Homo sapiens: one gene and its partners. The protein of the gene in region 4 purifies or fractionates together with the protein of the main gene of each other region. This does not show direct contact. Each region holds a gene or a part of one and is shown on either strand. Other genes may lie near its edges. The genes, in order: LRP1B, HSPBAP1, KIAA0232 and FOXD4L6.

Region 1 (7,025 bases), on a different chromosome or scaffold from region 4:
TCTATCACATCTTAAAAAGGAAACATCTTTGTAACTCTTAACAGCCAAAATTGGAAGATAAATCAGATTCACTTAGAATCAACTAATTTGTCATATAACAATGTCATATCATATCAAAGTATTGCTTGATAAGGATTAAAACTTAAAAGGAAGTATATCTTAAAGTGTCAAATTTTCTGAAAAGGGATTGAGAGGCCTAATGCTAGTCTGTGTTAAATTCTCGAGTATGATACAATGTGGAGACACATTTCCAAATAATTAAAGTTCATGCTGTTATAGTCATTTTAATGTATCTGTATAGAAAACCATCAAACAATGGCAATTAAATGTATATCAAAATTTTAATCTCCCCTCAAAGAAGAATGAACTGCGATTTATGTCTCTTCATATGCCACAAATAACATTAAAGTTTTGTTTTGAAGAGGTTGCTAATCTTTGAATTTGTTCTCTTTCTCTCTTCTCAAGCTCAAATTTAAACTGAGTGAGAGAGAAAAGAGAAAATGGAAAAGGTAAAGAAAGAATTTAAATGTGCTAAAACAATAAGAAAGAATGTGAATTGCAGAAAACAGAATTCAGGAGGAAAAATGGAGTTAAGAGAAAGCTGAAGATAAATTTAGGAAAAAGATGAATGGATGGATGGATGGATGGATGGATGGATGGATGGATTCTGCCATACATCAGAATCTGAATCAGTATTTCTTGAATAGGTTAAAATATCTTTAGACAAAATAATTTCTTAAAATGTTTTTATCTCATTATTAAAAACATTATATGAAAATATTTACAGTATAAAAATAATTTAAGGAAAGTGCCACCAGTGTGAATCTGAATATAATTAGACCTCTAAGAATGGAGAGAGACATGAGAATATTGCAGAAAAATTAAATATTAACTGTGCTAGAATTACAAATATGGAAGTGATTTTTTAAAAATGTAAGTGAAGGTAAAGGAAATTTTCTTAGAAAGGGTGCTAGATGAGTGATATGGTTAATGTATTCTTAGGACTTAGATGACACTTTCTAAATGCTGCTTGTTTTTCAAGGTGGAGGTATGCAGAAATACTTAGTTTGCAAATCTATTGGATCCAGGACATTAGTTTCTTGCCAGTTACCTTGTCAATTTCTTTTCTCAGCCCAGGGGATACCATAAAAATCAGCTCCATTTAAAGTCACCTGAACTGAACAGGACTTGGTCTTCTACAAGGATTATGATGTTGAGGGAACTTTATGTCTTTTCTCCATTCTATATATGGATCCAGTTTTTTATGTTTCTGCCATTAATTTTTGTATCTTAATGTGAAATGTGCAACTCTCCCTCCCTTTCCTTCAGCATTTTCCTGGTTATAGGAATTCTGTGTAGTAAAAAGTACCAATCAAACATACTGATAGATTTCTCTATCTTCTGTGGCTGTCTGTCAAAACAATTCTTGTACAAAGGAAACACTTGTCTTCATTCTAGATAGATGCATTCAAAGAAAGTAGAATTAATCCTAAAAGTTAAACATGCCTGTGCCAACATGATATCATTCGTCAAACTAAGTTAGTAGTAAGTGGAACCCAACTATACAATTGCCCCCAACCCCGTTTTTAATCTCTCTCTGTGTGTGTTTATGTGTGTCTGTATATCTGCTTTAAAATGGCTTTCCTTGGCACAAACGCCATTAAAAATACCACTCTGGCTTGAAAATTGGTGATGGTTTTTATGAATGAAACTTTTGCTTTTGAAAACTCCAGATAAACATGTCTATTTATCTGGACAAAAAAAAAAGTGAAATGAAAAAAATTTTAAGTTATTTTTTGACTCATAGCATATAATATTCTAATACATTTCGATATAACAAGTATTTTGTTTTAACAGAATCTGACTGTGTGGCAGAAACACGTGTCAAAATTATCTGCTTTTGAAATGAATATAATTATGGTATACCCAATGCTTATAATTTGAAGCAATACATTTAGTAGCAGAATGCTAAAGAAAATAAAGCCAAAGACTGAGTTCCATTATGAATTAATCAGAATATATGCTCAGCCAAACTCCTATGAGAAAATATCTATGTCTACCTTAGATAGTTTTAAAACTTTTCTTAAATTTCTTCAAGAAACCTGGCTTCCCCCATATAATCCAAGAATAATGACCAAAACTATCTTGATGCATAGAAAGGTCAAATAAGAAGGTTTTTCTTTTGGTTTTGGCAGAGGAGGGGGGAGAGTAGGGAAAATTAGCTAATCAAACAGAAAAATGTCAAGGGATGCTTTTTATTTTCTTCTGTGGAGTTGCTATACATTTTCACATGGATAGCTATTCCCAAATTTAACCTGTGTCACAAACCATTGTCTAGAGACATAGAAATGAAATTGCAACAGAGCAATCACAAATTGTATAGTCTATAGGCCTTGGGAACATTCTCCAGTTATTTTATTTTGGATGGAGATTTTTAAAACTTATTAGTTTTTTGGGATAAAATATTATTTAAACAGTAAATAAGACAAAAAATGAAAATATCTCTAAAAATAATTTGAGTTTTTAAAAGTTGGTTTTTGGACTAATTTCCATATGTGAGTTCCACTGGCACAGAATGAGTGTCTTTACCTCACTCACTCAATTTTGAAAAGTATTATACTTGCAATAGTATTGAATCTCTGTTCTGGCTCTTCAGTCCTCTCTCATTTGAATAACATGTCAATCTCACCAAGTACATATGAACCCTCTATTTTAGAGAAAGGAGAATGAAGGATTCAGGAGATTCTGCCATTCAGCACAACAAGTAAGCTTACATCTTCCAAATGTATATGCTGTTTTTTTTCTGTTTGTCTTCTATAATCTGCCCTCACAATTTTAAATCTATATTTTCCTCTTCATAAATGATCAGATGGCCTCCCTTTTTCCCCTGGCATAATTACAAGGCCAAGTTAGAAAGTATGTATTATGTATTGCTCTGTTCTAAATTGAGTGATATTAAAATGTAGAGTCAGTCTCACTCTCTCCATCTCTCTTTCTCTCCATCCTTTCTATTTAGGCTATCTCTATACAAGCCCACATATTTTGACTGAGCTCCCTGACTAAACCAATTGATGAAACTGACTAGTAACTAAATGGAAATCAAAACTATTAAATAATAGCCATACATCCTGTAAAAAAAAAAAGTAAGACTGGTCTTGCAGGAAAAGCCTAAATTGAGATTCTATGAAGAAACAATAACAACAACATATTTCCCTGAAAGAATTATGCAACATATTTCTAGTTTGCAGAGCAAATCATATGTGCTTTTGCTGTTGTGTCTCTCATACTAGGCAAATGAAATATTTTTGGTAGTAACTACATATTTATATAATGGGGTATTATACAAGTTTAAAACACTATTAGAAAATAAATAAGTATTCTGAATTCATTTGTACTCAAAGAGAATTTACTATATTGAAAGTGGAAATTTATTATTTTTCTTTTTGTCTTTACTTTTTAACTGAATTTGTATTTCTCCATTTTGTGAAACATTAAAAAAAACTTAAATATATTCCAAAATGTGATTTCAAAGATTTTCTCTCAATAAAGAATATATATAGTGGAAATCATTCATAAATTGGACAACAGGATTAAATGCTCTTTTAAATATGACTATAATAATTTTCATATGCAGTCACATTAACTTAGTTTTAGTCTACAATTAGGTACCCAATTATGATTTTTAAAAATGCAATGGCATGAATAAATAAATGAGTATACCCATTTGTTGATCTTATTCCCTATTACTTCAAATTTGTAAGTATCCTTAGTGGAAAAGAGTAATGTTCATTTTGGAAATAATCATGTCTCAACATGATTGGGGTCTACTCAAGGGGGAGGGTGGGAGGAAGAAGAGGAGCAGAAAGGATAACTATTGGGCACTGGGCTTAACACCTGGGTGGTAAGATAATATGATCAACAAACCCTTGTTACACATGTTTACCTATGTAACAAACCTTCACATGTACCCCCAAATCTAAAATTAAAATTAAAAAAAACATGTTTTTCTGTTGTTCAATAACTCTACTCATATTTGTTTAATAATGATGTATTGTCTACATTTGGGATTTCTTCTTAAATATTGCAGAATAGTTGTAAATACGTAACGCTTTTCAAAGGTGTCTTTACCTTTAGAAAAGAAAGAAAATTAATTTTGATTAATACATTTGTACCACAGATCCATTTGTTTAATCTTATTTTTCTCAAATATAAGCTCGTATATAAAAGTTTCTCAGATATAAGCTTGTGTATTTAAAAGTTTCCATTTAAACATGAATAATATTATAACTATATCCTTTACAGAAGTTGAGAAAGTACCTTTTCATATACAATTTCTTCCAACTTTGTTAAGAGAAAAATAACCAAAAAAAAAAAAAAACTTCTTGAAGAAGATAGATCATGTTGCCTTGCTAAGATACCGACATTACATTTCATCTCACAATACATTCTTATTAACAGTCAGACATCTCTTCCTGAGTTGCATACACCTCATTGTCCTGACTGGCTTAGCCTTCAGACCAAAGACAGGTATTGTTGAAACATGACCTCATTTTAGTCAAAAGAATATGTTTCTTCTTTAGGTAAGATCAAGGTACCACCTATCGTCTCTTGTTTTATTCTTGCAATCAATAGGACATCCCTTCCTAACTTTTCCACATTGCATTGACATCCTTCAAGATTTCCAAGACTGCTTAACTTTAGAAATACGAATATATAATTCCTTAAGAATTTTTCTACCGCTGAGTTTTTCTTTAATGACGATTTGTCATCTTAGCCCTTTCTTCTTAAAATGAGAAAAGATAACTAACAATGAGTTTTGGGGAGAAATGAAACTTAGTTATGGTTGCTTTGTGTGTTCCTAGCATATCTTAAGATATTTGTGAGAAAGAAAAGCTGTAGGTGTAATGCTGATAACCGAAATGTGTTTAGAATCATCTGTTTTCTTTTGAAACTAGGATGTGTAAGGAAAGGAAGAAAAACAATGCCAAGAAAGAGAACTTTGATAGTCAGAATTTATTGAAGCTTCTGTCCACTACTGCTCAGATCAAGTAGCTGAGCTAATTAGAACCTTAAACTTTTGCTAAAATAGATATTATAGAGATTTAAAAATGATTCAGTTTTTAGATTATCTAAGACATTTTGTGCATTTCCAAAGCTTTTAATGGTATATTTTTATTGGGACAAAAATGTTAGAATAGCAAGTGTGCTTTATTGAAATATTCCACTTTATCCAACTCTATTAACTTTTAAGGCATTTTTTTCATGACTAAGATCTGGAAGTACAGTGATAATGACACCACCTCGTGAGTGAGATTCTTGCCTCATCAGGTGAAAGCACTACAGATTGTGCCCACTGGGCATCCATATTTTTGAGATTTTCATTAAGCATAATAACTACATCAGATTTGTAGATGGAATTACTAACTCAGAATTCAGGCACTCTTGCTGAGCGCCCTTGTATTGATGTCATTTCTAACACAAAGACTAGCAGTTCAGGAGCACTATATTGATGTCCTGTAATACAACAGCACACTAATCTTATTTGCAAGAAAATTTGATGACTATCCAACATGATCAACATTTAGAATATCTAAATCTAAATGTTGAATTTAGATATACTAAATATATCAGATATTCAGAACTTAAACCTTCTTCTTTGTCCGTTGTTGTATTACACTCAATTCTACAGTTCCTTCTCCTAGCACGTTTTCTTCCTATTTTCACTTGCTAGTGATCTTGTCAAATATTTAGAAATTAATCTTGACAGTGAAAGAACCAACATCTTAGCACATTTTGACTTCCTTTGCTATTCTCATTGCTAGGAGAACATAAAGTAATGAAGGGCATGAGGGTTTTACCTTGTGTGTATTTTCATCTGGGTGTCTATGAAAACACCACCAGAGTTTTACAGAAAATTGCTCCGACCCATTCTGAGAAGATAAACATAGCTATGACCCTAACGTTCTGTGAGTGCACAGAGTGTAATGTCTGTGAAAACACATCGTATCATGTATTGCATTACATAAATACCTATTATTTTATTAATTATATTAATTGCTTAATATGAGTTACTAATAGCAAGAAGCTCTTTACATTTTCAGCATACCTTCGCTTTTCATTCAAATTTTTTTTTTCTTGCTGAATCACATGATCCTTGAAGCAACTCATATAGTTGGTGATCACTCATGTGTTTATTCACTCATTTGACAAAGATGAGCAAATAAGTGGTAATCACTATTTTACGTGGTTGGAATGAAGCAAGTGAACAAGGTAGACAATGTAACTGGGCTGATAGGGCTTTAGTGCAAGAGGAGACAGAAACAGCAAACAAATAAATAAATAACATCCTTGCTAAAAAGAAAGAAAAATAATGTAATGTGACTGAGGACAATGCAATTGGGAGTCGTAGTTATAATCGCAGAAGGCCTTGTTGAGTAAGTGACATATTTGGTAAAACTAAGTGACGAGAGGGGACAAGCTCTGAGTCATCTAGAGGGAGGAATTTTCTATGCAACCCTTGAGAGGAAGTTGTGATTTTGGTATTTTAAAGAAAGCAGGTCACTTTGTCTGAAATAAACTGTGTGTGTTTGGGAGAGAACAGAAGTAGAGAAAGCCATATTTACAGTGAAGTCAGATTAGGTCAGGTAGGGTCATGCAGATCAAATTGAGGCATTTGGGTTTGGTTCTGATTTTGAGCAGCTACTGGCTGTCTAATCAGAGGTGAAAATGATGCAACTTACTTTTTAAAGAGATCATGCTTGGTCTGAAAAGAAGGACAAGAAGGGAAATGATGAATCCAGTTCAGGGATTATCAAATTCATCCTGGAAAAGATGTTGATGGCTTGAATGAGGGAGTAGTAGTGGCAATAACGACAAGCTACAACAGAGATTTGCATTTTTAGTTTAGAAAGATTTTCTATAAGAACGAATGCAGCACCATTCTATGTATTAGGGAGGATAGGCATGAAATAAAGCCGCAAAAGATAATCTTTGGGGGAAAGGGTTAATATTCTAATCAGATAATA
Region 2 (7,091 bases), on a different chromosome or scaffold from region 4:
CAAAAATAAAAAATAAACCAAAAATTTTAAAAATGAACTTTTCTATGACTCCCATTGTATTCATCATTGTACTGAACATACTGACCCTTTCACTTGACTTTATTTAATGTATTTATTTTTCTCATTCTCTTACATAACATCTCTAATTTCTTTTCTTTCAGTTTCAACATCAGTTACTAAGGCTGGCACTTTCTATTAATAATAAAAATGGTCACGATTCTTGAATATCCAATTCCTGCCAGATACTATGCTAGATAATCTACACATATTAACTCTAATCTTCACAATAATCATGCATTTTACAGAGGAGGAAACTGAGGCTCAAAGGGATTAAGTACCTTGTCCTCCAGTCTTTCTCCCTCCAATCGGTCTTCTACCCTTCAGCCAAAGTGATCTTCCTACAACCAAATCTAATCATGTTATTTCCCTCACCTAAAGCTCTTTAAGGCTTCCTACTGTCTTAATGTCTAGATTCCTTAACTAGGCCTAAGGTAACCTTCAGGATACCTCTTTTCTTACCACTCCTGACACCAACTTCTTTCAGTTCTTGGACCATGCCATGCTTTCTCCTTTTGCCTCTGGACTTGGCATGGAGTGCCCTTATTCATCCACTCAACAAACATGTGGCATGTGCCAACTATGTGCCTGGCATTGTACTAGCAGCTGGGCACATGGTAGAGAATGAAACAGACATAGGTCCTGCCCTCAAGGTACTTATGATCTAATGGAAAAAACAAATAATAAATAATTACAGATTGTAGTAAGTAAAATGACAGAAGCAGGATGCTGTATTCCAGAACATCTAGGGTTGGGGGGTGCAAGAGAAATCACAGTGACTGTTTTAAATAGTTTGATCTGGTAAGGTCTCAGGTGGTGACATACTTTAAAAGCTAAAGATTAAGCCAGCTATGTGAAAAGCCAAAGGGGAGGTGAGTGACAAGAGATCCTGCTAAAGACATCAGCAGAGCCCAGACCAAGGATTATTACAGGCCACGGTTAAGAATCTGGGTTTTATTCTAACTTCTAAGGGCAATGTAATTCGCTGAAGAATTTTACATAAGGAAGAGTCACTTTTTGCTGCAGAGTGGAGAAGGGATTAGAGGGGCACAGAATAGAAAACAGAGACACAAGTCAGTCAGGAAGATACAGTAGTAGTTGAGGTGAGAAAATGTGGATGATTTGAAGTACGGTCTGATAGTGAAAGGAAAAAAGTAGACAGATTAGATGCAGAATTGACCTGACTTGCAAAGTCATTACCTGAAATTAAGAAAGAGGCAGAGAGAGGTTATAGAGTTTGGGAATTTGTCATTGGAGAACGTTAGCAGGCTCACTAGAGAAACAGAGGATCAGAGGGATCTCAAGCCCATACTGACTGAATATTCAAGAGTTTGGCCATTTTCACTTTATACGGTCATCAGTTTGTGCAGGACTTTTTCCAGCAAAGTTCAGGCCCACGGGTGCAGGTACAAAGAGGGCAAAAGGTTGACTTCATCCAGAGTAAGAGTTTTGTCAGAAAAAAGTGCAGGAAGGGACAAGAGAATTTTTCAAAGGAACGACATACATTCTGGATAAGGGGGTGCAGTGGATAGAAAATGGAAAGATCAATGCAATGGAGGTATAGATGAAGGTCAAGAATTGTCTCCCTGGTAGAAAGTGGTCAGATAGTAGGAGGCTATAATTTGTTTCTTCTGCTTGGAATGGGCATCTCCCCCTTCAGCAAACTGTTTGACCCCTAAATACATCCATCCTTTTCTGCTCCCTGACTTCCTGAACCCCAGCACCACTCCCTGAGTTTGTCACCATCTCATCCAATCAGAAAGGCCCACCTCAGCGGATCACAAGGTCAAGAGAGCGAGACCATCCTGGCCAACATGGTGAAACCCCGTCTCTACTAAAAATACAAAAATTAGCTGGGCGTGGTGGCACGCTTGTAGTCCCAGCTGCTTGGGACGCTGAGGCAGAAGAATTGCTTGAACCTGGGAGGTGGAGGTTGCAGTGAGCCAAAATCGCGCCACTGCACTCCAGCCTGGTGACAGAGCGAGACTCCGTCTCAAAAAAAGAAAAAAAAAAAAAGAGAGAAAAGAAAAAGAAAGGCCGACCTCAAACTATTCGCTCCTTGAAGCATTTATGTTCTCCCCACTGAGATCCCTCCTCCTAACAACCCTCACAGAGTGTACTACTGGTAGAATAGTTCAGGTGACCACATAGTAAGTCATTCTTTTTCCTTTCTAGGCTCCTTTGGAAAAGGTATTGTTATAAATATTCAAAAGTCTCTGGATCCTGCGACAGTATTCAGAACACAGCCCTGCACGGTGCAATCATTCAATAAATAATAACAGGGATCTCAGGCTCATGGGCCTCCAAACCTCATCCCCACTTGCTAAACCAGGGTTCACTGAAATAGAATAAAAGCGCATAATCCCTGTTCACAAAAGTCTCAGATAACTTCCATTAATCTCAAAGGTTGCCTTCAATTTCACAAATTTAATTTTAATCCCCTCTAAACGTTCAAAACACCTCTATTTAGCTAATGATGGGCAAATATAAAACAAAACAAAACAAAAATAACACCCCATGCGTGAAACAGCACTCGTAGGCTACCCTACGACGATCAAAAATCTGGATGCCACAATTCGAGAAATGCCACGCTCACTAGAAAATATAGATTTTTCTTCATAGTCTAATGCAAGGCCAGAGAGACCTGGGTTGGGGCTAAGGCAAACGGCCCCACGAGGGGTGCCACGAGAGTCAACTGGCATTGGGTTTGTACTCAGGGTCGGACCTCAGCCTGGCACCTACCTTCCTCCCCTCCAGCCCCAGCCGCAACGATCACAGGAGTGGTCGCCTCGGAGCCTGCTGCCATGGCTACCGCAAGGCGGGTTCTGCCGGAACCCAAGGCGGAGCGGAGCTGGGGTGGGGTCAGAGTAGGGGCCAAACTCCGAGACCCGAAGCTGCACCACAGGAAGGAGCCCCGGCGACTCCCGCCCGGCTCCTACGGAAACGCCGGCTCTCACGTGGAGGTCACGTGACGGATGCTGGGCGGGACCACGCAGCTTTGTTTTGATACCCCGGGTGTGGAAATACAAACACGTGGTCTGAGTTGTGGCGCTTTTTACCTAACCCGGACCTTAGCGTTCTTTATTGTAGTCTTAGCTTCGTTTCTGTTTCTCCTTTTCTAGTCAGATCCTTCCTTTCCACCTCGGCTTTTCTCCACCCTAAAGGATTGGAGTTTTAGGGGAAGGTTTGCCGCTTAGTGGGGCTCCGGCGGTGGGATGGGTCTCTGCCGTGAGCTTTCGCGAGCCGCTCTTGGCAGCCTGGAATGCGAGGCTAGCTCACGCTTCTCTTACACCTCTCTTGCCCTTCTGGTGGTAACCTGACTCCTTCTGATTTTAGTGGCTGCCGGGAAATACGAACCTCGGGCAAAGAATCCTGTGATTGCGTTCCCTGTGACTCATTTCCCGATCCAGACAAGCCAAATTGCTTGACTTTAGGTTTTCAAGGACACTAATCCACAGCTGTCAGGCTTCTGAATTTGTATACCAAAATAAACAAACAGCTGTGTGAAGAGATCAACAACCACCTTTCTTCTCGTTTACCCTGTGGTCAAATCATAATCACTGGAGATGGATCTTTGGGGCAAAAATCTTCCAACTTTACTGGACATACCTTTATTGCTCGCCTATTGGCAGGCGAAATGGGTAAAGTTTACATATATATGAATGAAATTGGCTAGTTTGGAATCTCCTCTTTGGATATGTAAGACAAAAAAGTAACAAAAATAGGTAGTACTTATTGCACGTAAGAAATGATTTTTATGAGATAATCCCCTGGGACCAACTACGCTTAAACTTTATCCTTCGCCTATAATTTCTGAAGTTACTAACTCAACAAAAATGAGAATAAGCCCAAAATAGAAGCAAGCATCAGGTTAACTGACGTCACTTAACAGGTCACTGAGTTGTTTATTAGGCACAAGATTTAACTTGGACACTTCCTCCAAACACCCCAGGGTTCCTTGCCCAACCTCCTCGAATACAGCCTCTCTGGGAGTTTCCCTCTCCCCGACTCAGCCGCGCTGGTCCCTGCCTTTTCAGCGCTACCTGCCCTCCGTCTGGGACCTGGCTCCTTTCCTCTCGCCGGTGTTTCCTCGCCACCCGCGGAGGGGAGGGCGGACCCCAGCCTCCTTGCCGCCTGCCCCGCCTCCCCGCCTCCCCGCCGGCCCGGCTCGGGCCGCGCAGGCGCACCAGGCGCGGTCCGGAGGCCGAGGGCGACCACAGCAGCCTCCGCCTCCTGCTGCTCAGGACTATTCTGCGCTGGGCTAGTCGGCGGTGACCCGGACTGCGCCCGGCAGTGGCTTCGCGGGCGACGCGTCGCCATGGGCTCTCGCTGGAGCAGCGAAGAGGAGAGGCAGCCGCTGCTGGGGCCCGGGCTCGGGCCTGGGCTGGGGGCCTCCTGGAGAAGCCGGGAGGCGGCGGCGGCGGCGCTGCCCGCGGCGGTCCCGGGTCCCGGGCGGGTATACGGGCGCCGCTGGCTGGTGCTGCTGCTCTTCTCGCTGCTGGCGTTCGTTCAGGGCCTGGTCTGGAACACCTGGGGTCCCATCCAGAACTCGGCGCGCCAGGCCTACGGCTTCTCCAGCTGGGACATCGCGCTGCTCGTGCTGTGGGGGCCCATCGGCTTCCTGCCCTGCTTCGCGTTCATGTGGCTCCTGGACAAGAGAGGTGAGGGGTCGCGGAGCGCCAGCCCGCGCTGTCTCTCCTCCGGGAGCAGGCGCCTGCCCGCGCTCCAGGCCTGCCAGCCGCCTCCCTTGGCCCCGGCATAGGGGTTGTGTGAGGTGATAGAGTGTTGCTAGCATTCCATTTCTGACTTAGGAACCCTCCGTCCCCAAAGCGACAAATATGGAAAGGCAACCTTGCAAATATTTATGTTTTTTATCAAGGCCCTTTATGCAACACCAGGGATTTAAGCGATCTCTAAACGTTCAAGTTTTTACACATTGTGAACATCAGAGCATCCCCGTGCACGTGCGGTGTATGTGTTTTACACCTGACAAAAATGACTGATGCTTTGACTTCAAAGGGATATGGGGATGTTGAGGATGAAAGGTCGGAAAATAGATTGACGGTGCCCATATGTAAGGAAATAATGAGTTCGTTTTGTGTAATAGATGACTCCAGCCCAGGAAGAGCTATTGGGAAACTCAGATCTGACACTTTGGTTTCTGGAAGGTGGTGCTCGGCAGCTTTAAAATGTGTGTATGTGACTAGATGGCTTTCTCAGTTGAGATTTGTGACTTTCAATTAAAGCTTGCAGATGAGTGAAGATGCTTGCTTAGAATGGTACCCTGGACATCTCACTTTACCACTTGCCAGTGTGATTCTCTGAGAAGAAAAAGCCATAGGGCTGAGAATCAAGGCATACTTACCACATAAGTATGGATAAATGATTAGTAGTGACAGTCTACCCTCAAGAGGCTGTTGTGCAAGATTTTATATTTATTAATTGAATAATGCCTGGGAGCTACTTTGTACAGTTTCTGTTCAACCTTTTATAAGTTTTGTTGCAATGAGTTCTTTAGTCAGATTTGGAAGGTTGTCTTAGTCCACTGGAGCTGCTATAACAAAATACCATAAACTGGGTAGTTCATAAACACAGAAATTTATTTCTCACAGTTCTGGAGGCTGGGAAGTCCAAGATGAAGGCTCAGGCAGAATCGGTGTCGGGTGAGGGCCTGCTTCCTACACAGTGGTCTCTTCACTATAACATAAGATGGAAGAAGGGGTTAGGGAATCCCTCTGAGGTCTGTTTTATACGGGCAGTAATCCTATTCACATGGGTTCCACCCTCATAACCTAATCACCTTCCAAAGGCTGCACCTTCTTATTCCATCATTTTGAGGGTTAAGATTTCAAAATGTGAATTTGAGGCCTGGCGCAGTGGCTCAAGTAATCCCAGCACGTTGGGAGGCTGGGGTGGGAGGATTGCTTGAGCTCAGGAGGTCGAAGCTGGAGTGAGCTGTGATGGCACCACTGCACTCTGCCCTGGTCAACAGGGCAAGACTCGTCTCAGAAAAATTAATACATAAACAAAATATGAATTTGAGGGGAACACATTCAGACCTCAGCAAAAGTCAAGTGTAGGTAGGTATAGAATTGCAATTGTCTGGCATGTAGTTAGCACTCAAAATTAGTTGGTTATTAAGAGAATAGAATAGCAGGGTGATGTTAGTAGTTATACTTCCTTCTCTCCTCCTTCACTGGAATTCCTTCATTGGAATCCATGTGAAAAAGACTAAGGAATAGTTGATTGTGAATTCCTTAATGATCAACAATATAATGTAGCTGCTAAAAAAGAAAGGACAGTTTAGGCATAGAAACATAGTGTCCAAAACAAGAAGCAAAATAGTTTGATAGGCTCTACATTAGTGTTTAGTTCTGAGCTTGATTCTGAGAAGGCCATTTGACAAACTGCAGAACTTTAAAGGTTCTGCGACAAGAATGATAAAGGGTATAAAAATCATGATGTGTAAAATGAAGGGAACTTGTGTGTATCACACTTCAAAAAGAAACTTGAGGCAAGATATAGACTATGTGAAGATCAAGTCAAAGAGGAATTCGACTTATGTGTTGTTCTAGGAGGAAGAACTAGACTGAGTCAAGTTACAAAGAAATGTAACTCAAAGCAATACAAGGAAGAACCTTCTAACAAAGATACCCAGCCCTGAATGGGTGTGTCTTGACTGCTGTAGAACTTCCAGCTAGAGCAAATACTTTTGCAGAGGATGTGTGCTAGATGCCGAAGAAGGGCTTCTCCTACCAAAGGGAGATTTTCTTTGGGTTATTGTTGTTTGCTTTTAAACTAAATATTGATTTTCTCTGGGTTTCTGCTGGGCTCAGTGGCTCATGTTTGTAATCTCAGCACTTTGGGAGGCTGAGGCGGGTGGGTCACTTGAGCCCAGGAGTTAGAGACCAGCCTGGGCAACATGGTGAAACTCCAAATCTACAAAAAATACAAAAATTAGCCAGACATGTTGGCATGCGCCTGTAGTCTTAGTTACTGGGGAGGCTGAGGCTGGAGGATCAGTTGAGCCCAGG
Region 3 (7,649 bases), on a different chromosome or scaffold from region 4:
CAGGCAGTCTTAGAAGCCTACTGAGCCAGAGACTGACAAGATCTGAGCTCAGGAAAGATGACTCTGGCAGCCAGGCAAAGAATGGATAGGAAGGGGTGGCGAGGAGCCTGAAGACAAAGTTAAAAACTTTAAGCAAAGCAAGTAATCTGAGGTTTTAACACTTACACTAGGCGAGTATTTTTAAAGGGTTTGAGTCTTGACGACATTTCACGTCTTCCCTCAAGTGATCATCCCAACTATTCTGTGAAACAGGTGTCATCAATCTTCCCATTCTACAGATGAGGAAATTAGCTCACAAGCCATTAACTGCCAAGTCAAATGCTACAAAAACAAGGACAAAGCGCAGGCTCAGCACTTTTCCACACAATGAAAAATAAAGAACAAGAACAATCTAATTTCTTTTGAAGAGTGCTACCGTACAACATAGCACAGAGTAGGCTAGCTACATTACCCTATATTACCACTGGAAGTGTTAAAAATCCATCTAATCAGCCAGGCGCGGTGGCTCACGCCTGTAATCCCAGCACTTTGGGAGGCTGAGGCAGGCGGATCACGAGGTCAGGAGAGAAAGACCATCCTGGCTAACACGGTGAAGCCCCATCTCTACTAAAAATGCAAAAAATTAGCCGGGGGTGGTGGCATGCACCTGTAGTCCCAGCTACTCGGGAGGTTGAGGCAGGAGACTCGCTTGTACCCGGCGGGCGGAGGTTGCAGTGAGTGAGCCGAGATCGCGGACTCCAGCCTGGGCGGCAGAGCGAGACTCCGTCTCAAAAAAAAAAAAAAAAAAAATTCATCTGATCTTCTTAAATGTTTGCAACTTGCATAACAAGCTAATTATCCTTAGATTTGACTTCTGTTAACGTCATGTTAAAGACCTATACTTTTTCTCCAAAGCAAACAAAAAAGCACCTGCACTTTGAATTCTACTTCCTATGGAAATAAATAAGAATAATATTCTCCCTTCCCTTCAATGTTTAAAAACTGGCATTTCACTGATGTAACGGGCTTACATAAAAACCATTATACCCAAGGAAGCTGTAAACCACTTTTTGAATGATTAAAAATGCATTATTTAGCAAGTACAGCAATTGAATCTGAGTTATAAGATATATTAAGTGAAAGGAGCTTCTATAGATATGCAAAGGCACACTCTCGGAAATAGGTTCTGTCATAAGGAAGCGACATAGAGATCCTGAGACCTATTTAAGAATGGTTCAATCCAAAATAACTGATGGAAGAATATTTGACCTTGAGGATGCAGAGTGATAGAATCCGCTCCTCCTCCCCCCCCGCCCTCACCCGCCTTTAAATTCTAAGTCCACGAAATGGTCAAAGTGTTCTGGAACGGGTCTTATTTTGCATAGGAAGAATCTAGCTTGGGCATTTTACCGCACAGTTTTATCCACAGCATCGCCTATTACCAAAACTGCTTGTCCCTACCCCCTCACGAGCTTTCTAACAGTTTTTAAAACAAGACCCAGAAATGTAAAATCCCTTCTTAGGAACTTGAACAGTAAGTCAAAGTATCCAACCCAGGTAATTATTAGCAAGAACTACATTTATATAATTTTTTCCAAAGAATCTCGCATGCCTCCTCTCCGCTGAATCTCCCTCCTGTTTTTAACTGGGTTAAATCTTTATAGCTTGCCTATAGAGGACAAAAACGGAAAGGTGGCAAAAAAGAAATCAAGACAGTTCTGCCATGATTTAGGGGTCTGTACCAAGAGTTCGGCAGGTCCTGTCACCTGCGCACCACAAGACGCAAGCTGAATTCTAGGGCAAGACGAAGCATTCCAACACGACACACACTGGTTTCTCCAGCGGGAAGAAGCAGAGAGCTCTAGAAATGCCGGCTGCAGACGCGTATTGTTGGAAAGGAGCCGGATCAGGCCCCGCAGCAACTCGGGGCGCCCTCGCGACAGGGTTTGCCGCGCAGCGCACGGATGACTGTGGGCCTGTCACTCCTAGCTCCAGCTGTAACCTTCGCCAAACCTTGCGCCGCACCGGCCCCGCCCGCCAGGCCCGCCCCCCGCGCCGCGCCCCGCGCCATAGGCCGGCGCGCCAGTCGCTCAGCCGGCCTCCCGGCCCCGCCCGCCTGCGGCCCTCCTCCCCCGCCCGGCGGTTTTCCCTTCCCGGGGCCCCAAAAGGACAATGCTGGAGGGGAGGGGAACGGAGGGAACGCGAGCGAGCGGCCCAGGCTGCCGGCCTGACCCCGCTGCCGGGGACGCCGGGCGCCTCCCACCGGCCGAAGCCTTCCTCCCGCGCCCACTTTCGGGGCTCTACGTCCTATCAAGTCTAAGCACCCCCGCCTCGTCTCCCCTAGAAGAGCCGCCCCGGCGCGGCGACACCTGCCCCAGGCAGGAGGCAGCCAACGGCAACCCATTGTGCGGACTCATCGTCCACAGCCCACCCGGGCGCAAGAGCCGCAAGCTGGTGTCCCGGCGTCCTGGGGTCGGGGCGGGGGTCCCAGGGCCCACAGCTCACCCGCACGCCCGGGCACCACCAGGATCGGGGCCGGTCAGGCCTCCCTCGGCTGGCCCCGGAGCCATCAACAGCGGCCCGGTCTCCCTTAGGCTGGCCCCGGAGCCATCAGCGGCGGCCCGGCCTCCCTCAGGCTGGCCCCGGAGCCCCCGGCGGCGGCCCGGTCTCCCTCAGGCTGGCCCCGGAGCCCTCGGCGGCGGCTCGGCCTCCCTTAGGCTGGCCCCAGAGCCCACGGCGGCGGCCCTGTCTCCCTTGGGCTGACCCCGAAGCCTTCGGCTGCGGCCCGGCCTCCCTCGGGCTGGCCCCGGAGCCCCACGGCGGCGAGCGTCCGGCCTCCCCGGCCCGCGCCCACCCGGCCGAGGGGCTGCTCCGCGCCCTCCCTCCCCGCCGCCTGCCCGCAGTACCTGCCGAGGCTGCCGGGCGGCGCGGCGGCCGGCGGGGGCGCCTCTCCTCTGGCTCCGAGGGGCTGCGGGCGGCTGCCGAGCGCCGGGCGGCCCTGGCCTGCGCCTTACGTAAAGCGGCGGCGGCGGCCCCAGCGCCACTCCGCGGAGGGCGGGAGGCGGCGCGCCGGGAGCCGCTCCGCTCCGTTACCCGGCAACTGGCCTCAGCGCCCCGCCAACCAGGGGCGCGCTCCATATCCTTCCGCCCGGGTGCCGGGATTACATCAGCGCCGGCCGGTCCCCGCCCCTGCCCCTCCCTCCGGCTGGGCTGCGGGCGCGCGCGGGCGGTGGGCCGCGGGCTGACGGCGCGAGGGGACAGGCCGGGGCTGGTGCCTGGCGGGTGGGGGTCTAGGGCCCGGGACGCGCCGTGCAGCTTGGCCGGGGCGGCGGAAGCCGCTGGGAGGTGAGAGGGCAAGCAGTAGAGAGGGCAGGCAGGAAGCGGGAGCCCCCCAGCGTGCTGGGCGTCGGAGAGGAGACGTCTCCCGCGGAGGGGCACGTGGGACTGCCCTCGGCAGAAGCCCCCGAACTCTGCCGCCGCGCCCCGCCCCCGGCCCGCGCTGGGGAAGTGGGGCTCGGCGTGCACGGCCCCGCCCGCGGCCCGGTGCAGCCCCCGCCTTCCCGGGCTCGCGCGCCACCTGTCCGCGCCCCCTCCTCGCCGCGTCCTGGGATGGCTGGAGTAGGCGGCTTAAAATAAAGACTTTAATTTTTTGTTGTTGTTGTTAAGGAACCCAGAAGACAAGCTAAAGAAATGTGACATGGCTCTTTTTTTATTAACTAGGCAAAAATAAATTCTGGAAGCTTCGAAAGTGGAAACCAAAAATGTGCATTAACCTTTTAATCAAAGTGTCTTCACAGCCACCTACCTTCCCTAAATGTGACTCCTAGGCCTGTTCTAAAAAAGCAAATAAGTATCATGGACCTGGAAAAGGAAGGGAGATTACTTAGAAGAAAGAGGTCCAATGGGAGGAGTGACTTACCTGGGGTCATTTGTTCATTTATGCAGCACCCACTAGGTGCCAGGCACTATGCTTTTCTGTTCAGAACCTGTTGGAGAATTTCCTGCACCAGCTCACGGGCTTGTGGGAGAAGCAGATGCTGAAACACTGGAGAGGGGTCATCTGCTGAGTTGGCTAGATGCTCCATGCATCCATGGAAGGACAAACCGAGGAACTGTCGCTTACGTACTATCTACAGAGTGTTTTTTCTGCGAACATATCTTTTTGTTCTTTACAAAAATCGTGGGACAAATCTTTGTCATCCGCATTTAACTGGTGAGGAAGCTGAGGCTGAAAGAAAGTGATTTCACCCAAGCCTGGCTGCTACCGAGTGGACAGGGCCTTCTGACCTTGCTAAACCACCTCTTGCAGGAGACAGAATGTGAACCCAGGCTCCTGGCTCTGAAATATGGGGTTTCGTTTCCTTTACACTACTGTCTCCCTTAACCAGTTTGCTTCTAATTGTATTCTCTGAGCATTCGCTCAGGTGAATGTATATCGTCATAAATCACACGTTCATTCAGTCAGTTTCTTCTGAGTGCTTGTTGTGGACCTGGCTCAGTGCCGGGAACGCACAGTCCCTGTGCTCCTGGAACTCAAACTCTAAAAACAGTGTCGAGAATGGAAAGGGTATGGGAAATCCAGGGCCACTTGGGAGTAGAGGAGGGGAGAGTAGCAGAGCTTCAGAGCCTAGTTCACAGGTGCCTCCAGGCTCCAGGATTTCACAGACCAAAGTATGGGGGATTTGCAAAGGATGGTCAGCTTTTGATTTTTGCTACATTGGTGACATATCTGTCATCTACATCATATTTTACAAAAGAGTATTAACAGCAAAATTTTTTGAAAAGTAATAACAGTATATCTCAGTTCTGAAGAAAGGAAACACGGTTGGCACCTGTATAGTGACACACACACACACACACACACACACAGAGTTTATTGACCTTTTTTTTTATTACTTTGCCACAGACCAGTTTTTATACTAGTTCTACCATGAACTAGTAGAACCTGAAGACTTCTTGGAAGAAGAGGTTTTTAAGTAGGAATTATCTTGTATTAATAGGATTTGGAGCTGGTGGGGAAAGATGACAGATTAGGGAAAGAAAGTGTCTTGTTTACTTTGTTTTCTTAACAAAATAGCCTCCTGTCCTCCAAATTATTTTGATAAAAATCCTAGGAGTCTCAGCTGACTCCAACCTTAGGGCCTTTGCATCTGCTGATTTCTGTGAGGAACTCCCTCCCCAGACCTCTGCGTGGCTGGTTCCTTCTTGTTAAAGGCCCTGCTACGATGTCACCTGCCCAGAGACATCTAGATGCCCAGTTTGGAGTAGCCAACCTTCCCAGTCATGATGCCACTGCTATATTTTGTTTCTTTATTCACAGCTCTTATCAGTATCTGAGATCATCTCGTTTGTATGTTTGTTTCCTCATTCATCTCAGCCTCCTCACTCAAGACCTGTATCTCACAAGAGCAGGCATTTTGCCTGTGGTGCTTATTTTCATATGCCCAGAGCCCAGCACGGAGCCTGCCAGTTTGTAGGTGCAGGACTGAACTATCATCTGTGATGTAGTCAGAGTGCACATCAGGGAGAAAACAATCCCACCTTCCCTTGAGCAATCAGGAACAGGGCTCTTCTGCATGAGCCCCTTACCCCCTGTAGTGTGCCACGCTGCCTACGACCTTCCTTCAGGCTCCCGGGTAGAGATCAGCCAACTTAAACTCAGGAGAACAGTAGCTTTCTCCCTCTTGTGGGCTAAGATCCCTAGGGAATGCAAATGAGGCCAGAGGACTCCTGCGTTAAGGCAGGGTTGGTGTGGAGGCGGTAGACTCCCCCTTCAGCATTTTCTGAGAAGAAACCATTGTCTCCTGTGTATGTCTGAGATCATTCATTTCATTTCTCTAGTCTCAGGAGCACCTGCCACAGCTTTTTAACCCCTACAGCCGGGTAAGGCAATGCTGGAGGAAGCTGACGACTCTGAGTGCCCTCTGACTTGGATGTTCGATGCTAGCGAGGATTCTAGCAGCTGCCATCTGGGGCAGTGATTGTGTAATGTGTATGCTTAGTGAACAGCAGGGATGAGGCTGGGTCCGGGATGCTTTGTGATGTCGTGTGGCACACGGACTGACGGCAGGCAGGGGCCAGGCCTCTTCGACTCTGTGATCTTGGGTACATAATCTCCCTCTCTGGGCCTCAGTTTCCCCATCTGCACAACAAGGGACTTGGGCAGGAAGATTTCAAAAATCTCCTTTGTTCTGTGCCTGTGTGTGTGTGTGTGTGTGTGAGAGAGAGAGATTTAGAAACAAAATTTCAATGAAGCTACACTTTGATAAATGATATACAAATCCTCACCTGTCACCTGACACGAGCAATGCCAGCTCCTGTTTACTGACCCCCAGGTGCATGCCAAGTGCTTTGCTCACATTGTCCTTAACTCCCACAATACCAGGCAGGGAAGAGATGATCCCCATTTTGCAGCCACAGAAGCCAAGGCTTCTCTGGAGACTTAGGTGGCTTGCACAGGCCACACTGCTACTAAAAGGCAGCACCAGGATTTCATTTTAGCCCTGTGCTTGCTACTGGGCCACACAGTATCATTAAAATCCATCCTGAGATGACTTTTAAATGAATGAGGCCAAGATAAAACCCTGACCAGATAATCTCCCCATTGCCTCCCCATGGGACCAAGACCCTCACTTGGGATACTAACTAGGCATCTCAGTTCAGATGCTGTCAGTCAAGGTGGCCCACATCATGGCCTTCTCTCTTAACCACCCCAGGCCTGCACCCGCATTCTGACAGCCTCTCCTCTCAGTGGCTCTCCTCTCTTAGGGGTAGTAACATCATTCCAGGCCTAAAGAGAGTTCAAGCCTCTGGCATAGCCCCATGGTCTGACCTTGAGCAAGGCCCTGACCTTCTGAGGGTTTCGGCTTCCTAGTGCAGGAAAAGACAGAGGAATAACGCCTTGTTCCGCTTGCCTATCCCTGTAGGGCCAAACCAGATCAGAGGTGTGGTTGTCTCCTGCTTCCAAATTTGTTCCTCACTTCTATCCCTCCACCCAGTCCATGGAAAATCAACAACGTCATCAGCAATGTCACCAGAAGTAGGGGAGCACGGTGATTAAGCACACTGGCTGATTAGCTCACTGATGTGGGTAAATTACTTAGCCTCTCAGTTTCCTCATCTGTAAAGTGGGCATAATAATAATAGTATCTGCCTCAGAGGGTTGCGGTGAAGGGGTAAGTGAATCCACACAGAGGGTACCCGGCACACAGCAAACACTCAATAAATACCAGCACCCACGACCATCCCTCCTTGAAGCCCCCACTACTTAGCTCTGACTGCCCATCTCCAGGACCCCCTCTTCCTCTGTCCCTCCCATTCCCTCCTTTCTTATCCCTCCTTTCTTATACCTCCTTTCTTATCATTCTGCATACCACTAGGGCAGTCTCCTCCACTCCAGTAGCTGTTAAGTAACATGAAAATGGAAGGACACCTAATATCTCTCCCCTACCCCAGCTTTTCTCCAAGGCCCAGAACCGCCTCCTGGGCTTGTCCGCCTTGCTGGTGGGACCCTCCCCAGCCCCCAGCATGTTCCTGGCTGACTCACTGCCTTTCCACACAGGGGCCCCTTCCCTCATCGCTCTATTTACAGCATCACCCTCTCCCTGGCTGCCTGAGCTAGAGTCCTAGTGCACCGACCTGGTGAATTTGTTTCAGAGATGACCTTGCAG
Region 4 (7,198 bases):
GGGCGTTCTTGTCTGGTTTCCCCCCACTCCGTCCCCTGACGCCGAGTAACACTTAAACCTTTCTAGTTGCAAAGTCTTTTCAGAGTTGTTTTTTTTTTAAGAAATAAGTTTTGAAAATTCTAGTGCTTAAAATATATATATATATATATAATTTATAGCCTTTTATTTTCTCTGAGTACATGTTGGCCACTACATTCCAAATTGATCTCAAATGGTTTTCCAGCTTGTTGAGGGGTGATGAAAAATAAATGGAGAATATATTTACATGCCCTCCTATTCTTTTCTTTTAGAAGTCTCATAAATAGTAAATTTCCTATTTTAAAAGCCAGGACATTTTCAACCTCAAATATTTGGAATTTTTAAAGGCCATATTAAAATGGATTACTTCTGCTATCTATAATAAATATGAATTGTGAAAATAAATTGTTTGAGGGAAAGTAACGTAGGTTTTAAAAAGTTCCATTTAGAAAGGGAAGAATGAGATGTAATAGAAAATAAACGATGTAGTGTAGTGACTTAGCATTTTATTTCGTCTATATAACTAGGCTTAATTTTAACACCTTAATTTTAACATTAAAGATGGCACGTCAGACACACAGATAAGAAATCAATGTTCTGAAATTAATATCCTACTTACATTAAACATCCCTATCAGGAAGACACAGAGAGTAGAAGCATTTTGCACTAGACTTAGGAATAATACTTCCAGCTCCAAGGAAGTGAAGAAGGGGGAACATGTTTGGCATCGGAGGCTGTGTTTTTGTTTGCTTGCTTGTTTTTCTTTTAATGCCAGAACAAAATACCCCACTCACGTTCATAGTACCCCAGGAAATGCGCAAATCGGGACAGCCATAGAAGCCACAACCGAAGGCAAGAAAAGATGACTTGACGCCCTGCGAAGGTTACGTTCAGGTGGTTTTTAGAGGAACGTAATCCAGCTGTTTCTTTCTAACCATTTTGCAGCGAACAGAAGTTCGTGTTTGCTCTCCAGCGGGATTCAGATGCACACGCCCTGAATGGGCCGCGCAAGGTGAAGTGAGCAGCTGCGGGTCGCTCCCCACTCCCACCTGGCTCTAGGAGGGCCCTGCGGAGTTGGCCAGGGAACTGGGCGTGGGCGATACTAAAAAAACTGGTGAGGTCCCCTCTCCGCCCAAAGGGGCAGCCAGCGATGTCAGCCTAGAGCCCTCTGCCACTGCCTGATACCTCAGCAGGGCCGACGAGGCCGACAGGTGCCCGCCCAGCACCGCGCCCTTGGTGGGAGCGCAGCCGTTGGCGCAGTCCTCCTCCTGATGCTGCTGCTATTGCTGCAAAATTGTCCGAGCAGCGGCGGCGGCGGACACTTGCAGCAAAGGGGCAGCGGTCTGGGGATGCAACAGGCTTGATGGTCGCTGGAGCAGGTGGCAGTAGCTCCACGCGGTCGGGGACAAACTCTGCGCAGCCCCTGTACCCGCTCCCCTGACCCCTTGCATAATACTCTCAATGCTGAAAGAGATGCATCCGCCTCCCGGTGGCGACGCCAGACCCTTGCCCTCCTCCCAAGGCTGAGGACCAAGTGAGGGCTGCAGCACGGGAAGGGTGCCGGGGTCGCCAGGGCCGCGCCTTCTGCTTTCTTCGGTGCCCCGGCATAGACGGGGGCCGAGAGCAGTAGGTAGCGAAGAGGATGCGGGTGCAGCAGAGCGTAAGGGCGTCTCCCGGGGGCGGTGTTGGGGTAGGCCCCCGGGACTGGCTGCGGCGGGGCAGGGGCCCCAAGCAGAGGGCCTGGGTGGGGGTTGTGCAGGGCGGCGTGTGCAGCAGGTAGAGGGAAGGGGTGGGGCAGGTGGGCTCCCGGGGTCAGTTGGTGGCGCTTGAAACGCTTCCTACGCCGGAGAAAGCTGCCATTGTCGAACATGTCTTGGGAGGCGGGGTCCAGGCTCCAGTAGTTGCCCTTGCCTGGGTGGCCCGGCTCGCGGGGGATCTTAACGAAGCAGTCGTTCAGCGAGAGGTTGTGGCGGATGCTGTTCTGCCAGGCGGGGAACTTGCGGCGGTAGTAGGGGAAGCGGCCACTAATGAAGGCGCAGATGCCGCTGAGCGTGAGGCGCTTGTGCGGGTTTTGCAGGATGGCCATGGTGATGAGCGCGATGTACGAGTAGGGGGGCTTTGCCGGCTGCCGGGCATCTTCAGAGGCCGCCGCAGACCTTGGCGGTGCCCTGAACTTGGTGCCAAACTCTGAGGGGTCGCTCGGGCCGCCGCCGCCCTCGATGTGCTCTCGGGGAAGCGCAACCCCGCCCCACCGGGCCACCTGCAGCCCCGGCTGGAGCGACTGCTCTAGGAACTGCTGGCTCGCCGCCTCCTCCTCGTCTTCCACCTCGTCTTCATCTTCCTCCTCTCCCAGGACATCGATTTTACCGTCTTCCCCATCGGAGTCCCGGAGGCTGCGCTGCGGTGTGGAGCGAAGGCGCTCAGCTCTTGGCAGGTTCATGGAGGAGCAGGTGCTTCAGTCGCAGGGGATGTGGCGACCGATCACCTAGCCTGGGGCGGGCTGAGCTGGAAGCCTGGGATGAATGTTGCAAGAAGCAGGAACGCTAGTGGTTACCCTTTGGGATGTTTTCGTCTGCTTGTTTCTACTCCTTTGCAACAACGTCCGGCAAAGATGCCTTTGCCTTTTATAAAAGCTTCTTCAAGACCATGTGTGGTGGACTCCCCCCTTTATAACCCTTCTTCCCCTACCTCGGAGCGGTGCCACTTCCTCCTAACGTAGTCCAGGGATGATGGTCTTCTGGGCAAACACCCGTCCGGAGAAAAGCCCAGCCCCCTCCTCCTCGCACCCACCTGCCACCAAGGAAGATGCTCTACTCATCCGGTGCAGCCAGACAGTTGGCAAGCCTTTGCACGGGTTCTGTTAAGGCGCATTTAAACCCGCGCAAATAAAAGCGAGGTAGGAAAGTATGATACTCAACATTCTATGACCACCTCAACATGCAGCCTTCCCGCCTGGAGAAAAGAAATGGTGGGGCAGGAGGCTGAAATGTACACGGTTGTTTGTAAAGGAATGTGTAACCGTAAAAGTATGTTTTTGTGTTTCACAGCTGGTAATCACCCATTTTCATTGGTAGAGTCTGCCCTTACCCAGAATGGTGAGCTGAATTATATTTAAGGTTCTGACAATATTCCCAGGCTTCAGGGGGGTGTTGCTTTGCTCCTTCTACCTTCCTTCCCACCTCCTCAAGATGCTCTCCCTGACTCAAATTTTCAGAAAAGGCTCAAATGTCCCAGCACTAAATTGTGTAAGTTTACTCAGGGAAGGCAGGAGAGCTCACACGGAGTCCTCTGTCCCCTTGTAGCAATGGTTCTCCAATTTCTTTGAATATTTAACCACAGAAATACATTTTATATCACAATCTCACACATACAGACATAATACATAACTAAGATGGGTTTCACGAAACAATATACTTACACTATAGTGATCACTGATATTTCCTTTTAAAAAAAAATGGCCATAACCAACTAAATTGATTTCACACATACCAGTATGGGCCCAGTTTGAAAAATCCTGTTCTTACAAAGTGGCCCCACATACAAGAAATGCACCCACTCTATAAGGGCTTCTCTCTCTCCCTTTCCTCCTTCCTTTCTTCATCCTTTATAACCAATTCATTTTTAGAGACAGGGTCTATGTTGCGCAGGCTGGCTTTGAATTCCTGGGCTCAAGTGATCCTCCCGCCTCAGCCTCCTGAGTAGGTGGGACTACAGGCGTGCCACTATGCCTGGCTCTGGCTCTTCATTCTTTTTTTTTTTTTTCTTTTTTTTTTTTTGAGACGGAGTCGCTCTGTCGCCCAGGCTGGAGTGCAGTGGGGCGATCTCAGCTCACTGCAAGCTCCGCCTCCTGGGTTCACGCCATTCTCCTGCCTCAGCCTCCCAAGTAGATGGGACTACAGGCGCTCGCCACCACGCCTGGCTAATATTTTTAGTAGAGACGGGGTTTCACCGTGTTAGCCAGGATGGTCTCGATGTCCTGACCTCATGATCCGCTTGCCTCAGCCTCCTAAAGTGCTGGGATTACCGGCGTGAGCCGCCATGCCCAGCCTCTTCATTCTTTCAGAAATGTCAACATTAAGTGCTTTTACTGTAATAAAACTTGGGACTTCAATGAGGCAAGAAGGGGCTGCAGTGTTGCCTTTAAATCAGTGGGTCCTCATTCACTATCTGCACTGGGGAGGGGCAATATGACAGCACAACTGTTCATCTCACTCCCTCCACATCCTTAGAAGTAACACGATTTTTAGATTGGCTTCATGAAAATTAGCTCAGAGACTAAAGTAGCACTACAGAGGAATAAAAAAAATTTGTTATATAAATAAGAATCTTATTAAAATACTAAGTAAGATACTATGCCACGGTATATATTCATAATTTAAAACCCACCTACTTGGGAAAACTTTGAGGTGCCATCTAATAAAAATGCAGCATGAAAGAATATTATGCCCTTGATAGTCACATAGTGTCTATAATTATGACAATGAATGTTCAGTGAGAAATCAAACGCCAACTGCAAGGGCAAAATATAATAAAAAATAGCTTAAAGTAGCTAGTGCCTTCAGGATAAAATCTGGAAAAGAGCTTTCTTGCTGATCTTTTTTTGAAACTTTGCTGCTCCTGAAGTTTTTACCCTTTAAGGCTCCTCAGTTTATATGAAGCTTGGAGGACAAATAACAGACAGGTTTGAGCCTAACAGATTTGTTTGAATCCCAAATTTACCAATGACTGCTTGTGTGACCTACTAAACTAAGCTCCAGGAGGGCCAGGCCAGGTGTCTTATTCAACCACATAATCCCAGACGCCTCCTCCCCAGCGCCCCCCAGCATGTGAGGCAAATTTCCTCCATCAGCATAGGAATCGGATGACCTGGGAAAGGGAGTATTAGTTTTCCTAGAGCCAGCTTCAATAGGGATTGGGGTTATTTAAAAATACAGGAGAAAAATAAGGAGGCGCTCAAAAACAAAACACAAAACCCACACTGATGGGGGTATGTCAAAGGGGGGAACAGGAGATAACGGAAAGAGTTCCCAATGGTCAAAGCTGGGATAATTTGAGCAACAAAATAAAGTAGTATTAAATTGTAACCCAAAGTATAAAATATTCATGTGTCCACACTGATAAACATAAATGATCGAACTAATAAAGCGAAAGGGACAACTGTCCCTTGCAGAAGAATTTCAATTAATTATGTAGACCACTCCCAAGAAAGTACACTACAACTCCCCATTCCTTTAGTGTGGGCTGTGCATAGTGATTTCCTTCCAAAGAGCACAGTATGAAATGGGGGAGAAGAGTAACTTTACAATGCAGAAACCTGACAAACACTCCTTCAGCCAGGTGATCAGGTCGTCAACATCAACATCAATAACAGTCATAACCTTTTATTTCATGTCATAAAATGGTGACACTTACTTGTGTTAAAAAAATTTAATAACAATGTAATCATTATATCTCTGCAATCAGCTGAAGTTCTAAGAAAAAATGACAATGTTGAAAGTTGTATCATCATTATTATAAACTTTCATGTTCAGTATATGTAAACTCCAAAGCCAATTTCAAAAGATATTTTTGTGAAATACCATTCTTTAAAAAAAAGGATATTGTATATAATTGTATGAATGTTAAATGTTTTACAGTACTGATTTGCTACATTTTATGTATGCTGTAAAACAAATACCATTTTAAAGTATATTGGAATTCGTAACTAAAGTAATAAATAAATGCTTGAAATATACCCAGTAGAAACTTATTTTTATTATCCAATCCTTTTGATAAGAAATGCCTCTAGTGTTATGTACAAACTTGATCTTCTTTGAAATGTGTTGTCCACTGCTTTTCTGTTTCTGTCACAGTAGCTATAAACAGCTGTTTAAGGATATCCTTATCTAAATTTCTGCCTGCAAACAAAACAAAATATGACGTGATTACATTATGCTTATTAAAATGACACAGTTCACCTATCAATTCCAGTTCATTAAATGCTTTATGGTGTTTAAAAATTTACAAAAAGAATAGTAATTGAGTGATTCCATCTTTAACTTTCCAGGTCAGTACATCAAAGTCACATTGGTCCTTGGATTAACCACTTTTCTAAAATTGAAGAAGAACAAAAGTCCTAACAAGCTTTTACGAACATTGTAACGTGACAAAGATGAAACATTGACCACAAGCTTATTTAGTTTTAAAAGAGGACCTGAATGGTTAATCTGTTTAAGTGGCACATGATATCCCTTTCAAATATATTTTTCACTTTGTTTCAAAACTGTGAATCCTTTGAGACTTACCAATGAGGACCAATCGATTTGTTCTCTCAGTGTCATCCTTCCAGCTCACTGGAGTCTCCTCCAGATCACAGAGCTCATGGACACCCTGGACAATCACTTGTTGTGATTTGTCTTTGATTGACACCAATCCCTGCTCAAAGGAGAATTGACTGAACATTAATCAGCCTCAGTTCAAACTTAAAAGCAGAAATAGAGCATCAATGTTAATGGATTAATTACTGATATTCACTTAAAAAATACAAACTCTTAAGCTGAGAAAATTACTTAATTCCAATTATTTGTGAATTACAAGAAGTTTCTTAATGTTTTTAATTTTCAAAAAAGGTTTCTGTGTATTGATTTTTTTTTTGAACAATCCCCTTTTCTAATGATAAAGTTAATACATATATTAGGATGGTTTTTCAGTGTTATTTATCACAACCAAAACCTGAAACAAAATGATGAAATATGTATCATATCCTATTGATTAAAGATTTTATATAATGTTTCACAGTTTTAGTGGGAAAAGTTGAGAAGTTAAAGGAGTTTGGTTATATTAAATAATTTGTTTTAGAAATGGGTTGCAATCAATGAACAATGTTGAAATAAAGAAAAACTATTATATTTATCTGGATATGAGCTCAATTTATCTGAATATGAGCTCATTGTGTATTGATTTGCAGAAATGAGAAACGAATTATCTGATAAACTGGCTCCTATGGGGATGAAATTAATTTATTTGAAATAATATTCTTAATTTACCAAAAACTTTGTGCACACTTGTGAACACACAAGAGTAGACACTCAACTGACTGGTTAAGCATACACTTTAGAATCACTGCTTCCTAGAAGAAATACCTTTCATGACTTAAATACCCAAATATCAAGTAATGTGAGTGGGTTTCTAAATACAGAAC

The links.
Region 1: the proteins of FOXD4L6 (region 4) and LRP1B purify together in Homo sapiens (affinity purification with mass spectrometry; 3 studies listed by BioGRID and IntAct, with this or other methods). This does not show direct contact.
Region 2: the proteins of FOXD4L6 (region 4) and HSPBAP1 purify together in Homo sapiens (affinity purification with mass spectrometry; 3 studies listed by BioGRID and IntAct, with this or other methods). This does not show direct contact.
Region 3: the proteins of FOXD4L6 (region 4) and KIAA0232 purify together in Homo sapiens (affinity purification with mass spectrometry; 3 studies listed by BioGRID and IntAct, with this or other methods). This does not show direct contact.

Annotation. Positions count from the first base shown.
Region 1 is NC_000002.12:142,121,009-142,128,033, reverse strand, and holds part of LRP1B (low-density lipoprotein receptor-related protein 1B precursor), read left to right. Parts: intron 1-7,025. UniProt on the Homo sapiens protein: Potential cell surface proteins that bind and internalize ligands in the process of receptor-mediated endocytosis.
Region 2 is NC_000003.12:122,790,818-122,797,908, forward strand, and holds the start of HSPBAP1 (HSPB1-associated protein 1), read right to left. Parts: upstream 3,015-7,091; 5' UTR 2,864-3,014; coding exon 2,800-2,863; exon of another isoform or gene 1-2,799. Other genes in the region: SLC49A4 (solute carrier family 49 member 4), read left to right, coding at 4,376-4,718. UniProt on the Homo sapiens protein: May play a role in cellular stress response.
Region 3 is NC_000004.12:6,778,078-6,785,726, reverse strand, and holds the start of KIAA0232 (uncharacterized protein KIAA0232), read right to left. Parts: upstream 3,001-7,649; 5' UTR 2,886-3,000; intron 1,952-2,885; exon of another isoform or gene 166-1,951; intron 1-165.
Region 4 is NC_000009.12:41,125,926-41,133,123, forward strand, and holds FOXD4L6 (forkhead box protein D4-like 6), read right to left. Parts: upstream 2,757-7,198; 5' UTR 2,459-2,756; coding exon 1,205-2,458; 3' UTR 510-1,204; downstream 1-509. Other genes in the region: ZNG1F (zinc-regulated GTPase metalloprotein activator 1F), read right to left, coding at 5,809-5,915, 6,303-6,432.